2 separate regions of the Homo sapiens genome follow, and region 2 is linked to region 1. The links come from fine-mapping of genetic effects on gene expression. A gene starts in region 1. The other region holds a variant in brackets. All regions are shown on one strand. Distances are from middle to middle.

Region 1 (8,347 bases):
GTTAAGTGAAATGCCAGGCATAGAAAGACAAATAGCACATATTCTCACTCATAAGTGAGAGCTAAAAAAGTGGATCTCATGGCAGTAGAGAGTAGAATGATGGTTACCAGAGGCTGGGAAGGTTGGGGGTAAGGAGGATGAAAAAGGTTGCGTAATGGGTACAAAAATACAATTAGATAGAGGAAACAATTTCTAGTGTTCGATAGCACTAGAGGGTGACTATAGTTAACAATAATTTATCATATATTTCAAAATAGCTAGAAGGCAAGATGTGAAATGTTCCTAACACAAAGAAATAAACAATGTTTGAGGTGATGGATATCACAATTACCTTGGTTTTATCATTATACCTTGTACGCAAATATCAAAATACCCCATAAATATATGCTTATTATGTATGTATTAATTTAAAAAGGAAATAAAACCATAATATTGCTGAACATTACACAAAAGCAACAGAAAAGGGAATTCTCTGAAATTAGAAAAGTTTTCCCAAAACCTGTGAGAAAGCAAATAAGCATAGAATAAGAAAGTAAAAATCTGCTTTGCCATTCATCAGCTATGGGATAACAGGCATAAATAAAGCCAGCTGTGAAATTAACAGAAAATACTATTTCTCTCTGGAAGATGCTTTAAAATGTCTCAAACACACACACACACACACACACACACACACACACACACACACCCTTAGAGTAACTGATTTTTTACTCACACAATGCCCTTTTCTCTAAAATCATAGAACATTTATGACAATATCAAAAGATTGTCAAAAACTCTGCTGTTTAAATCCTATTATTAAGATTGAAATATCTCACTCTTGGCTAGAATATCTAAAGTCACATTGACACAGAGAAATAGTTTCTACTTCTGAGAGGCAGAACTTTGCAATTTCCAAAAAACAGAACCCTGGGTCCATCTTGTATTACGTTGGTGCAAAAGTAATTGCAGTTTTTGCCATTAGTAATAGTTTAGATGTAGTGTAGAATTCTTTACAAACAGCCTTGCTTTCTTTTGAGTCTATCAAAGCACTACTTCATTTCAATTCCTTCTAAACTCCATACTTCCCCAAATTCCTACAATAAATCTATCTCTTCCTCTGTTGGTGAGGTACCCCATGGTTCTTCTGGAATGTGGGCTCCCTCCTTGCAATGAGCCAGTAAACCTGATGATATGGTCTGCTCTGTGTCCCCACCCAAATCTCACTTCAAATTTTAATTCCCATGTGTGCAAGGAGAGACCTGGTGGGAGGTGATTAGATTATGGGGGCAGTTCCCCCATGCTATTCTTGTGATAATGAGGGAGTTCTCATGAGATCTGATGGTTTTAAAAGTGGCAGTTTTCCCACGATCTCACTTCTCTCCTGCCACCGTGTAAGATATGTCTTGCTTCTCCTTCACCTTCTGCTATGATTTAAGTTTCCTGAGGACTCCCCAGCCATGTGGAACTGTGAGTCAACTAAATCTCTTTCCTTTATAAATTACCCAGTCTCGGGTATTTCTTTATAGCAGTGTGAAAACAGACTAATATACCTGACTTTCTTGGAATACAGTTTTGTTCCTGATAAACTTAGGCTTATTGGGCTAAGAAGCCTGTCTCATATTAGTTCAGGAACACCAATTTCACATAAAAATGAGCAATAACTCACGCCTGTAATCCCAGCACTTTGGGAGGCCAAGGGGTGGATCACGAGGTCAGGAGATCGAGACCATCCTGGCTAACACGGTGAAACCCCGTCTCTACTAAAAATACAAAAAATTAGCCGGGCGTGGTGGCAGGTGCCTGTAGTTCCAGCTACTCGGGAGGCTGAGGCAGGAGAATGGCGTGAATCCGGGAGGCAGAACTTGCAGTGAGCCAAGATCCCGCCACTGCACTCCAACCTGGGCAACAGAGCAAGGCTCTGTCTCAAAAAAAAAAAAAAAAAAAAAAAAAAAAGAGCAACAAAAAAAGCATCAAGTTCAAATCCATGCAGTTATTATGTGAAGAGAATAAGGAATATAACATCATCATCAAAGATAATAAAAACATGCCTGAAAGATGCACTACAAAACAATTTATTATTTTGAAACTAGCTAAATGACATTAGAGAAATGATAAAAGATATGGAAGAACTTGATTCTGAATTAGAAAAACCTCAGAAATGAGGTGACAGAACTCAGGAGAATTAGTAATAAAGAATAAACTACAAGAAACACAAAAGCTAATAAATGCAACAGATTATGATTTGCTGTAAAGAAACCGAGTCAATCCTTAGATCAATGTTTCTGTAATAATTCTGATTGTCAGACACTTTCTCCAATTAATTATTAAGGAGGGGCTCATGAAAACACTAGTCTCACCAAATTGATATATCAATTGTTGATAACAGTTTGTACCTTTTGTATATTAGTTTTGCTGAATGTAAAATCTTTGGCCTACATATTTTTCCCTTAAGTTTCCTCAATATGTCATTCTACTTTCTTATGACATAAAGCCTCACTGTCAAAAAGCTGTGATCGCCTAGTTTTCTTTCCCATTTTACATATGTGACAAAACATTAAAATCTGTTAAATCTGGTTGCTTGTTACATGCCTGAAATAATTCACACCATATTTTATCAAATCTAACATGCCCTCAATTTTAAGATGCATCGTTTTCTGTATTTATTTTTTAAAAATTCATCCTCTATTCATGGATGTTAAAATATGAAGAAGCGTGGGTAATGGCAGGCCATTGTTTTGGCCTAGCCTTCTACACTAGGCCCCATCAGATCAAACCAGAATGGAGTTGCTTGTGCTAAGCACCATGTAATTAAAGTGGATTTTGAAAAAATGAGCCAGTTTTTTTTAAAAAAACAGGAGATTCTAGTTAACCTAGTGGGCATAATAAGGAAGTATGCTCTGTTTTAACCTTTACAAGGAAAGAAACTTTGAAATAATCTGATTTTTGTTCTGTTTCTGCTTTCTTCAATCTTTTTCATTATCTTCAGTCCTGTAGCATTATCTTAGTGCTAGAGCAGAGCCTTGAAAGAATAGAACACAGATCAAGAACATTTTAATGTGGAAAAGGTTCACAACTGGATTGAGGAACACGGATAATGCTATAGGTGAGCAACATAAAGCTTCCAGGTATTTTAAGATGTGCAATTTTGAAGAGAATAGAGGGCACGAAGGATAATACAGTTTTGCCTGGACCCTCATCTCCATATGAGAGGAAAAATTTCTAATTAAAAATATGATACATCACAGAAAATTACATAATACCCAAAGTATATGCTAATTTTAAAAATCCTGCAGATGTTTATTCAAATATACAGTGTTATTTAGTGAAAGACAAATCCTAATGTTATTGTGTCCAACTCATTTTTGCTTTCTAAGAAAGGTGACACGGAAGTAAATGAAAAAGAATTATATGAGAACTTTTTAGATATGTGTTCTGGTAATCTAACAGTGACTAGCTCTATAACCTTGACCAAGTCACTTGCACTGACCGGAAGTTCCTTTCCCTTACCCACAAATTTAAGGGACCAAACTGGATGATCTAACGACATCTATGGCACTAAAAGTCACATGATTCTATTAAATCTGAGGCAGCGCCTCACATGTAGTGGACTCCCAAAATTATTTATTAAATGTATAACATCTTTAAGTGGTATCCCCTCACTGACAATCTGGAGCTATTAGCAGCCTTCAGTTTATTTATAAAATAAAGCTGTTTCCTCTTCTTACCGTTAAGACTCTTTTAAGGATTTGCAACGCTATCCCATCATTTCGCGGGTTACTAGAGTCCTGCATGTTTGGCTGTAGAGCAAGGGTGACGCGTAACTTCTGGACTTTGGTTCCATCTACATCTGCCGGATGCGGATGCCAGTCGCAACAGTAACGCCCCCTTCGGCCACCTGCACCACAGCACGCCATGCGGCCACACCCAAACCGGAAACCAGGACGCCCCTAGGGTTGACGGGAAGGCGCTGCCGGGCTCCTAGCTTCCCCAGGCCCGCCCCCTCTGATGACGTCTCCGCCCGCCCCTTGACCCCCCCACGGTCCCGCCCCTTCCTACCTTCCAGTAGCCGGCGGCGGTGTCTCAGGCGGCAATGGAAGGATCCGAGCCTGTGGCCGCCCATCAGGGGGAAGAGGCGTCCTGTTCTTCCTGGGGGACTGGCAGGTGAGAGGACGAGAAGGGCGAAGGTGAGGGGTCGCGGGTGGGACCCAGGCTCCGGGTTTCTGCTTCTTTCTTTCCGGCGGGCTGGGGGCGCCCGAGAGGCCGCGGGGCCGAGCAGAGCCGGCCCTGGGAGGCGAGGGGCGCGCGCGGAGTGGGTGTGGCGACGTGGGCTAGGGCCTCTGCTGTTGCCGGCTTTCCTGAGGGAAAAGTCCCCTTTCCGCACCTTTGAGGGCTTTCTCAGTTCTGGCTGGGATTCGGGATCCTCCTTCCTCCAAGTCACCAGACTTGGGGGGCTCCGGTCGAGAGCGAGTTCTGGTCTCGGTCACTTGGCGTGAGCTTCCCCGACTGGTGCCAAGCACCTTTCCTCCTTTCCGTAAAAAGAAAGCTAGGAGCGCCACTGTGCACCTCCACTGAGATCCTCTTTTGAAAACTATTACCAGAAGGAACTTGGTAAGAATGAATCAGTAGCAATCTGGACACCCTGAGGCCTTTGTTGACTTCGGAAGAAGGAAAAAAAAAAAGCCAGGAAAAAAAAATACACAAGTTACCCATTCTTATTTCCCACTTGGTTTTGAAGTTCTTCAGGTCTTTCCCGCCCCTGTAAAATTAGGGGGAAAATATTTGTGCTAGGCCTTTACCAATTTCTTGGTTAGTAGTTCCTCTTTCAATCATCTCATAATTAATAAAGCAAGTGGTTACATTCTATCCACCACTGTCAGAATACACCATGCCAAAGATAGAATTGATGGATGTATTATTTTCAGCTGATGTGAGACTTTGTAAACCTGTAGCCTTTTCGCCAGTTTCAGACTGAAGGGATGCTTTCAGTTTCATGGTGTTGTCTGCCATTGCCAACACTGCCAGAGTGGAGGGATATTATGTAATATAACCCGCGCCTTATTTGAAGCGTTTTTGATTGTCTTATAGATCATATTATTTTTACATATTTTTGAAACATTCCAGTGAGGCACAACTTTCTGAAAAGGGCCAGTCACGCCATTAAGTGGCAGAGCTAGTTAGACTGCAGCTGTTCTCGTTTTTATTCAGATTTACCCACCAGGCCTATTGCCCCCGCCATGCAAGGAAAACAGCAAGTGAAAGTGTACTAGGGATAAAATGATAGGAAAGTAGATAATAAAAAACTTTGGCCGGGCGCAGTGGCTCAAACGCTTGCAATCCCAGCGCTTTGGGAGGTCGAAGCAGGCGGGTCGCTTGAGCTCAGGAGTTCTTAGACTAGCCTGGGCAACATGGCGAAACCGCGTCTCTACAAAATACAAAAAAATTAGCTGGGCGTAGGTGATGCACGCCTGTAGTCCCAGCTACTCGGGAGGCTAAGATGAGAGGATCGCTTGAGTCTAGAGAGATCGAGGCTGCAGTGAGCCGAGATCGTGCCACTGCACTCCAGTCTGGGTGACAGAGAGAGACCCTGTCTCAAAAAAAAAGAAAAGAAACAAATTTTGTTAATTTTTATATTTTGTTACAATGCCCAAACAGGGTATATTGTGTATGTGTGTGTTTTTTATTAGGTAGGTGATCTCTTAGAACACAGCTATCTTCTGATTTGCCTTGGTAATTGGAATCAGTTTTTTTAATAGCTATCCGTTTAATTAGCTAGAAGCTGGTATCATTTGATATGTGCCAGTGTTTGGTGAGATAAATGATAACATTTTAATTACCTTTGTTTACAAATTCTTTGGCTTATTTATCAATGCTAGGACTAGAAAGTTGGATTCCAAGCCTGAATTTGATGCCATCGCATTGTTTTTAGAATCTTTTAATTGACAACTAGAGCTTCTCAGAACTAGGAATGGCCTCCACTTCTGCCAGTATATTGATCTCAGCTCTCACAGTGGTTCAGCTCCAAATGCTCCAGACTGGTTCCCTGTACCTGGGAATTATCTCTGCTTGCCAGTGTTTAGTACAGATACGTTTTTTGAAGGCCATGCTGTGAAAATGGGACGAGCACTGCTATAAATAATATGTTACTATAATAAGTATACTTTGTCAGATTTGCATATTTAGATTAGTTTTTTTCCTTTAAAATTTATTCATTTAACAGGGTTTTTTTGTTTTGTTTTGTTTGTTTGTTTTTTGACAGAGTCTTGCTCTTGTCACCCAGGCTGGAGTACAGTGGTGGGATCTTGGCTCACTGCAGCCTCCTCCTCCCGGGTTCAAGCGATTCTCCCACCTCAGCCTCCCAAGTAGCTGGGAATACAGGCGCCTGCTACTACATCTGGCTAATTTTTGTATTTTTAGTAGAGACAGGGTTTCACCACGTTGGTCAGGCTGGTCTCGAACTCCTGACTTCAGGTGGTCCGCCTGCCTTGGCCTCCCAAAGTGCTGGGATTACAAGCATGAGCCACCGCGCCCATCCCATTTAACAGGTTTTTTTAAGTGTTTCCTTTATGTCTAATATCAGAAACAGTAGGCAGTATGTGTGGTAGTCAAGAGCTAGACTGCCTGGGTTCAGATCCTGGCAGTGCCATTTGCCTGCTCTGTGACTTTGGGCAAATTTTAAGTTAACCTCCCTCAGCCTCTTTTTTCCATCTGTTCGTTGGAGATAGCAATAGTGCTTGCCCACTGTTTGGACAAGGTTGTTGTAAGGGTTAACTGAATAAGTACATCTAAAGCACTTAAATATGTAGCACAGGGTTATCTATTATTATTAAATGCCTGGTACTGTTTTAGGTATTTGGAATACAGTAGTGAGTTTTTAACAGACCATACATTTTTTTGGTAGTAGTGGCAGACAGTTAACGGTAAGTGATTTGAAGAAACTGACAGGTTAATGAGTTAGGCAGCAACCTAAGGATAAGAGTAGCCATTTTATTGATAGGGTGATCAGGAATGAGGTGTGTGGTATTTGTGACACAATATTTTAATAGAGGCTTAAGTGACAAGAAGTCAGCTATTCCGAGATTTTAAGAAAGAACATTCTAAGCAGAAGAAATAGGTAAAAACTCTGAAATGAGAGCAAGCTTGCCTTCTTGCGAAACAGCAAACAAGTCAGTGTGGCTTGAAGATAGTAAGCGAAAACGGAGACTGGTGGGAGTTGAAATTGGAGAGATAATTGGGAGACAGGACACATTGGCCCTCTCAAGCATAGTGAGGTGTTTGAATTTTGTTTTAAGAGTAAAGGAAATCCACTGAAGGGTAGTCCAAATTCAGGGAATAATTTCTGACTGCATTTTAAGATATTTAGACTGTTTTATGGAGAATAAAGGGGAAGGGCAATACTGGAAATAAGGAGACTAGCTAGGTCTTTGAAATAGCCCAGGTGAAATGTGATGATGGTTTGGCTTGAGATTGTACTGATTGAAATAGTAAGAAATGATCAGGTTTGAGATATCTTATGAAGGTAGAGCTAACAGGTCTCAGATGGAGAAAACTGGGGAATGATTTAAGCAAGAAGATCCCTAGATTTCAGGCCCAACCCAGTAAATGATGGTAGCGGAAAATGAGTTAGGAAAGACAGGAAGAATAGATTAAGCAGGGGTAATTGAATTCTCTTTGGAGTTTGTTATGTTTGTGATACCAGTTAAGACATCAGAATAGTTATTGTTTTGGCAGTTGTATACAATCTGGAGGTCAGAGGAAAGATCACACGTGGAGAAATAAGTTTCAATATAATCAATATATATTCATCAATAGGATTGAATGAGTTTATCTGGGAAGACTGTATATATAGAGAAAGTTCATGGTACAGAATTGCTGAAATACAGATCCATTAGAATATATGTACCAAACAGGCGGGCACAGTGGCCCACGCCTGTAATCCTAGCACTTTGGGACGCTGAGGCGGGTGGATCTCTTGAGGTCAGTAGTTCAAGACCAGCCTGGCCAACATGGTAAAACCCCATCTCTACTAAAATTACAAAATTAATTGGATGTGGTGGTGTGCACTTGTAGTCCCAGCCACTTGGGAGGCTGAGGCATGAAAATCGTCTGAAACCAGGAGGTGGACGTTGCAGTAAGCCAAGATCGTGCCTCTGCACTCCAGTCTCGGTAACAGAGTGAGACTCCCATCTCAAAAAAGAAAACAAACAAACAAACAACAACAACAACAAAATATATATATATGTATTTATGTACCAGTGATAAAACAACACCTGAGATCTGAGAATAAAAGATGATGAGCTCTGTAATCTTAAAATTTACACAGGATAGAACAAGCAATCCGATAATTTAATTTCAGGCCATTTAAAAA
Region 2 (8,347 bases), 810 kb before region 1:
AGGTCAGTGGGTGCGCGTACCATGCGTGAGCCAAAGCAGGGCGAGGCAATGCCTCACTTGGGAAGCACAAGGGGTCAGGGAGTTCCCTTTCCGAGTCAAAGAAAGGGGTGAGGGACGTACCTGGAAAATCGGGTCACTCCCACCCAAATACTGGGCTTTTCCGACGGGCTTAAAAAATGGTGCACCACGAGATTATATCCCGCACCTGGATCGGAGGGTCCTACGCCCATGGAGTCTCGCTGATTGCTAGCACAGCAGTCTGAGATCAAACTGCAAGGTGGCAGTGAGGCTGGGGGAGGGGCGCCCGCCATTGCCCAGGCTTGCTTAGGTAAACAAAGCAACAGGGAAGCTCGAACTGGGTGGAGCCCACCACAGCTCAAGGAGGCCTGCCTGCCTCTGTAGGCTCCACCTCTGGGGGCAGGGCACAGACAAAAAGACAGCAGTAACCTCTGCAGACTTAAATGTCCCTGTCTGACAGCTTTGAAGAGAGCAGTGGTTCTCCCAGCACGCAGCTGGAGATCTGAGAACGGGCAGACTGCCTCCTCAAGTGGGTCCCTGACCCCTGACCCCCAAGCAGCCTAACTGAGAGGCACCCCGCAGCAGGGGCACACTGACACCTCACACGGTGGGGTATTCCAACAGACCTGCAGCTGAGGGTCCTGTCTGTTAGAAGGAAAACTAACAAACAGAAAGGACATCCACACCAAAAACCCATCTGTACATCACCATCATCAAAGACCAAAAGTAGATAAAACCACAAAGATGGGGAAAAAACAGAACAGAAAAACTGGAAACTCTAAAAAGCAGAGCGCCTCTCCTCCTCCAAAGGAACATAGTTCCTCACCAGCAACGGAACAAAGCTGGATGGAGAATGACTTTGACGAGCTGAGAGAAGAAGGCTTCAGACGATCAAATTACTCTGAGGTACGGGAGGACATTCAAACCAAAGGCAAATAAGTTGAAAACTTTGAAAAAAATTTAGAAGAATGTATAACTAGAATAACCAACACAGAGAAGTGCTTAAAGGAGCTGATGGAGCTGAAAACCAAGGCTCGAGAACTACGTGAAGAATGCAGAAGCCTCAGGAGCCGATGCGATCAACTGGAAGAAAGGGTATCAGCAATGGAAGATGAAATGAATGAAATGAAGCGAGAAGGGAAGTTTAGAGAAAAAAGAATAAAAAGAAATGAGCAAAGCCTCCAAGAAATATGGGACTATGTGAAAAGACCAAATCTACGTCTGATTGGTGTACCTGAAAGTGATGGGGAGAATGGAACCAAGTTGGAAAACACTCTGCAGGGTATTATCCAGGAGAACTTCCCCAATCTAGCAAGGCAGGCCAACATTCAGATTCAGGAAATACAAAGAACGCCACAAAGATACTCCTCGAGAAGAGCAACTCCAAGACACATAATTGTCAGATTCACCAAAGTTGAAATGAAGAAAAAAATGTTAAGGGCAGACAGAGAGAAGGGTGGGCTTACCCTCAAAGGGAAGCCCATCAGACTAACAGTGGATCTCTCGGCAGAAACCCTACAAGCCAGAAGAGAGTGGGGGCCAATACTCAACATTCTTAAAGAAAAGAATTTTCAACCCAGAATTTCATATCCAGCCAAACTAAGTTTCATAAGTGAAGGAGAAATAAAATACTTTACAGACAAGCAAATGCTGAAAGATTTTGTCACCACCAGTCCTGCCCTAAAAGAGCTCCTGAAGGAAATGCTAAACATGGAAAGGAACAACCGGTACCAGCTGCTGCAAAATCATGCCAAAATGTAAAGACCATTGAGACTAGGAAGAAACTGCATCAACTAACTAGCAAAATAACCAGCTAACATCATAATGACAGGATCAAATTCACACATAACAATATTAACTTTAAATGTAAATGGACTAAATGCTCCAATTAAAAGACACAGACTGGCAAATTGGATAAAAAGTCAAGACCCATCAGTGTGCTGTATTCAGGAAACCCATCCCACGTGCAGAGACACACATAGGCTCAAAATAAAAGGATGGAGGAAGATCTACCAAGCAAATGGAAAACAAAAAAAGGCAGGGGTTGCAATCCTAGTCTCTGATAAAACAGACTTTAAACCAACAAAGATCAAAAGAGACAAAGAAGGTCATTACATAATGGTAAAGGGATCAATTCAACAAGAAGAGCTAACTATCCTAAATATACATGCACCCAATACAGGAGCACCCAGATTCATAAAGCAAGTCCTAAGTGACCTACAAAGAGACTTAGACTCCCACACATTAATAATGGGAGACTTTAACACCCCACTGTCAACATTAGACAGATCAACGAGAGAGAAAGTCAACAAGGATACCCAGGAATTGAACTCAGCTCTGCACCAAGCGGACCTAATAGACATCTACAAAACTCTCCACCCCAAATCAACAGAATATACATTTTTTTCAGCACCACACCACACCTATTCCAAAATTGACCACGTACTTGGAAGTAAAGCTCTCCTCAGCAAATGTAAAAGAACAGAAATTACAACAAACTATCTCTCAGACCACAGTACAATCAAAGTAGAACTCAGGATTAAGAATCTCACTCAAAACCGCTCAACTACATGGAAACTGAACAACCTGCTCCTGAATGACTACTGGGTACATAACAAAATGAAGGCAGAAATAAAGATGTTCTTTGAAACCAATGAGAACAAAGACACAACATACCAGAATCTCTGGGACGCATTTAAAGCAGTGTGTAGAGGGAAATTTATAGCACTAAATGCCCACAAGAGAAAGCAGGAAAGATCCAAAATTGACACCCTAACATCACAATTAAAATAACTAGAAAAGCAAGAGCAAACACATTCAAAAGCTAGCAGAAGGCAAGAAATAACTAAAATCAGAGCAGAACTGAAGGAAATAGAGACACAAAAAACCCTTCAAAAAATTAATGAATCCAGGAGCTGGTTTTTTGAAAGGATCAACAAAATTGATAGACCGCTAGCAAGACTAATAAAGAAAAAAAGAGAGAAGAATCAAATAGACGCAATAAAAAATGATAAAGGGGATATCACCACTGATCCCACAGAAATACAAACTACCATCAGAGAATACTACAAACACCTCTACGCAAATAAACTAGAAAATCTAGAAGAAATGGATAAATTCCTCGACACATACACTCTCCCAAGACTAAACCAGGAAGAAGGTGAATCTCTGAATAGACCAATAACAGGATCTGAAATTATGGCAATAATCAATAGCTTACCAACAAAAAAGAGTCCAGGACCAGATGGATTCACAGCCGAATTCTACCAGAGGTACAAGGAGGAACTGGTACCATTCCTTCTGAAACTATTCCAATCAATAGAAAAAGAGGGAATCCTCCCTAACTCATTTTATGAGGCCAGCATCATTCTAATACCAAAGCCAGGCAGAGACACAACCAAAAAAGAGAATTTTAGACCAATATCCTTGATGAACATTGATGCAAAAATCCTCAATAAAATACTGCCAAATCGAATCCAGCAGCACATCAAAAAGCGTATCCACCATGATCAAGTGGGCTTCATCCCTGGGATGCAAGGCTGGTTCAATATACACAAATCAATAAATGTAATCCAGCATATAAACAGAGCCAAAGACAAAAACCACATGATTATCTCAATAGATGCAGAAAAAGCCTTTGACAAAATTCAACAACCCTTCATGCTAAAAACTCTCAATAAATTAGGTATTGATGGGACGTATTTCAAAATAATAAGAGCTATCTATGACAAACCCACAGCCAATATCATACTGAATGGGCAAAAACTGGAAGCATTCCCTTTGAAAACTGGCACAAGACAGGGATGCCCTCTCTCACCACTCCTATTCAACATAGTGTTGGAAGTTCTGGCCAGGGCAATGAGGCAGGAGAAGGAAATAAAGGGTATTCAATTAGGAAAAGAGGAAGTCAAATTGTCCCTGTTTGCAGAAGACATGATTGTATATCTAGAAAACCCCATTGTCTCAGCCCAAAATCTCCTTAAGCTGATAAGCAACTTTAGCAAAGTCTCAGGATACAAAATCAATGTACCAAAATCACAAGCATTCTTATACACCAACAACAGACAAACAGAGAGCCAAATCATGAGTGAACTCCCATTCACAATTGCTTCAAAGAGAATTAAATACCTAGGAATCCAAATTACAAGGGATATGAAGGACCTCTTCAAGGAGAACTGCAAACCACTGCTCAAGGAAATAAAAGAGGATACAAACAAATGGAAGAACATTCCCTGCTCATGGGTAGGAAGAATCGATATCGTGAAAATGGCCATACTGCCCAAGGTAATTTACAGATGCAATGCCATCCCCATCAAGCTACCAATGCCTTTCTTCACAGAATTGGAAAAAACTACTTTAAAGTTCATATGGAACCAAAAAAGAGCCCGCATCACCAAGTCAATCCTAAGCCAAAAGAACAAAGCTGGAGGCATCACGCTACCTGACTTCAAACTATACTACAAGGCTACAGTAACCAAAACAGCATGGTACTGGTACCAAAACAGAGATATAGATCAATGGAACACAACAGAGCCCTCAGAAATAACGCCGCATATCTACAACTATCTGATCTTTGACAAACCTGAGAAAAACAAGCAATGGGGAAAGGATTCCCTATTTAATAAATGGTGCTGGGAAAACTGGCTAGCCATATGTAGAAAGCTGAAACTGGATCCCTTCCTTACACCTTATACAAAAATCAATTCAAGATGGATTAAAGACTTAAACGTTAGACCTAAAACCATAAAAACCCTAGAAGAAAATCTAGGCATTACCATTCAGGACATAGGCATGGGCAAGGACTTCATGTCTAAAACACCAAAAGCAATGGCAAGAAAAGCCAAAATTGACAAATGGGATCTAATTAAACTAAAGAGCTTCTGCACAGCAAAAGAAACTACCATCAGAGTGAACAGGCAACCTACAGAATGGGAGAAAATTTTTGCAA[C/T]CTACTCAACTGACAAAGGGCTAATATCCAGAATCTACAATGAACTCAAACAAATTTACAAGAAAAAAACAAACAACCCCATCAAAAAGTGGGCAAAGGACATGAACAGACACTTCTCAAAAGAAGACATTTATGCAGCCAAAAAAGACATGAAAAAATGCTCATCATCACTGGCCATCAGAGAAATGCAAATCAAAACCACAATGAGATACCATCTCACACCAGTTAGAATGGCAATCATTAAAAAGTCAGGAAAAAACAGGTGCTGGAGAGGATGTGGAGAAATAGGAACACTTTTACACTGTTGGTGGGACTGTAAACTAGTTCAACCATTGTGGAAGTCAGTGTGGCAATTCCTCAGGGATCTAGAACTAGAAATACCATTTGACCCAGCCATCCCATTACTGGGTATATACCCAAAGGACTAAAAATCATACTGCTATAAAGACACATGCACACGTATGTTTATTGTGACATTATTCACAATAGCAAAGACTTGGAACCAACCCAAATGTCCAACAATGATAGACTGGATTAAGAAAATGTGGCACATATATACCATGGAATACTATGCAGCCATAAAAAATGATGAGTTCATGTCCTTTGTAGGGACATGGATGAAATTGGAAATCATCATTCTCAGTAAACTATCGCAAGAACAAAAAACCAAACACCACATATTCTCACTCATAGGTGGGAATTGAACAATGAGATCACATGGACACAGGAAGGGGAATATCACACTCTGGGGACTGTGGTGGGGTAGGGGCAGGGGGCAGGGATAGCATTGGGAGATATACCTAATGCTAGATGACGAGTTAGTGGGTGCAGTGCACCAGCATGGCACATGTATACATATGTAACTAACCTGCACAATGTGCACATGTACCCTAAAACTTAAAGTATAATAAAAAAAAGAAAAAGAAAAAAATATATGTAATTTCCTCTTAATTCTCTGAACATTTTGCTTTCCTTATATATAAGTAATATGCAATATATAAAATTGTTATGCTTATATATAAAAATATATGTATATATTTATTTTATTAATGTACATTATTTGAGACAATGGGGAAAGCTGAAGTGTGGCTCATTCAAACGTACTGGGATTTTGAATTTCTTCACCCACCCTTACCAAATGTCGATTTTGTGGGGGAACTCCACTGTAAACCAGCCAAAACCCTGCCTAAGGTAAATGTATTCATGTTTGATTTATTTGCTTTGCATTTCAGAAGGAATGGCCAGATATGTTTTCATTCAGAGTGTTTGACTCACAGTGAGAGAAATACGGGAGGTCAAAGAAAGTGACCTACCATTAGAAACTCATATGTTGCTATATCATCACAACTGTGTAAACTTTAGTGTCATTAAATATCAAAGAGGGATACTAAAGAGACTCTGAAAACAGGGTTGATTCAATGAAAGCCTTCATTGTGCAATGTAAAAAAAAAAATAAGTCATTCCTTCAAGGAATATTTATGAATTGATCAGCACAAACCACGGATAAGTGCTGGATTTTCAGAGAAGAAATGTAGGCACTTTCTGCTCCCTCATGCCTTACGTTGTACTTTGAAAGATAGACTATAAGCAAGTAAAAAGGAAAAGTCTAAAAGTGTTATAAGGTCACAATGCTAAGGAAACATGTAGAAGAGATCTCAAAGTCATTGATAAAGTGAGTCCTCAATAATGTCTAGGAGTAGATGAAAAGATGAGGGGGAGAGGAAAACACAAAAAGAAAAGCAGGTAGTGAAGTAAAGGCAGTGCCTAAGGTTTCAAATTAGTATGCAGGAAAAAGCTGAGTAAAGTAGCAGATGATGCTAGAGAGGTAAGTTGAAGCAATATAACTATAAGGAGATCTAAGTATCTATTAAGGGCAAAGGGGAGCTACTGCACAGAGTTCAGAAATGGAGAGATATTATCAGATTCCCTTTCTTTAAAAAGCTCTCAATGTTGTCAATGGATTACATCGCAAAAAGGCCAGATTGTGAAAAGTGTAGATCATTTAGAAGATTTTGCATGAGTTTATGCAACAGATAATGATGGAAAAGTGGACTAGAATGTTGATAGAGATAATTATGCCTACTTCTATAATAATGGCAATTACCTCCTATTGTGTCGTGTTGGAAATATACTTAACATAGATAAAACACTTATAATGTCTCTCATACATAGTCAGTGATTCAAATAGTAGTAATATTGTAATGATTTTTTATTTTTGTTATTACTATTAATAGTATCCATTAGTTAACATATGCCAGCCACTCGAGATATAATTCCTCTATTAATAGGAACAGTTTTCCGACACATCAAGGTTCTCCAGCAAAGTCCTAGAGAACAGATCCCCTGTGGATTTGTTTAAATATAGATGTTTGGGCAGTCAGATGAACAAGATGAAATGCTAACGGCGTAAGGGTTAAGGCTTTTCAAGGTACACTATTCATCAACGACATAAATGTGTGCCACCAGAATATTCACAGCCAAAGCCAATGTTTACTTGCTTTCACTCTAGCATTTAAAACATTAGTCAGTGAGATGACAGAGGTTTATATCTTAGAGCATAAAAGGGTCAGTTTACCCTTTTAATGTTTTCTGCCTTATACCAAGCCTATAGGACACCTCAGTAAAAATCTCTGGGAAACTTGGGACTCATCATCACAGCTGCCTGACAGAGAAGCACCAAAAAAAAATGAACAATGCATGTATAATAAGATCCAAATAATGTCTACCACTTGCATCTGAAAACTACACTGAGATTTACAAAAGAATTCTGTCAGGATATAGGATGATCTTCCTTACGAAGAAACAAAAGAACCTCATATATTTTACTTTAATGTTATTCTTTTGAGACATAAGCAGAAAGCAAGCATTCCTCACTACTTTATTATATAAGCCTTAAGAGATCTTTTTGTCTACCTTCTTATAAGCAGCAACAGAAAACTGAAATCTTACTTGAGTTAAAACTCAATGTTTATGTTGAATGAAAATTGCATAGGCTCTATGTGGTAATTTCCCAAAGGACAAAGGCAGAGGTAAGACCAATGAAAATTCTATGCACTCTAACCTTATTCTCAAAAAATTTTCCCATTCACATTAGAGGAAAGTGATGGTGCCATTAGAAGGGGGAAGAGAGTAGGTGGAGAAGGAAGACAAGGGCAAGAATGACTATTAGAACAATAGTGATAAATACTAATACTAGCTGTTGTTATTCATTTGCAGAAGGTAGGTTCGAATCCAGGTCAATAGTTGTGCAGCCTGTCCTCTACTTCTTTCTTACATAAAATAATTTTTGTCACAAATTTTCTTGCTTTTCCATTATGTATTAGATTCTCAGATAATGATTGCATATTTTAAAAGAATCAGACACTTGGGGAAAAGTATTAA

What was found. PIP is the estimated chance that this variant, and not a neighbour inherited with it, causes the effect.
Region 2: its variant is fine-mapped to the expression of UBA6-DT in fibroblasts (GTEx, PIP 0.96).

The regions. Positions count from the first base shown.
Region 1 is chr4:67,696,845-67,705,191 of GRCh38, reverse strand. It overlaps UBA6-DT (UBA6 divergent transcript), which reads right to left and starts at 3,914. Exons shown (of 2, transcript NR_015439.1): 1 at 3,708-3,914. UBA6 (ubiquitin like modifier activating enzyme 6) reads left to right here and starts at 4,037. Exons shown (of 33, transcript NM_018227.6): 1 at 4,037-4,143. The coding sequence starts at 4,073. RefSeq lists silencers at 3,944-4,013, 4,144-4,313.
Region 2 is chr4:68,507,346-68,515,692 of GRCh38, reverse strand. No RefSeq gene overlaps it. Among named protein-coding and RNA genes, the nearest start is that of TMPRSS11E, 64 kb to the right of the region's middle. The variant C/T (reference allele first, on the strand shown) is at 4,967.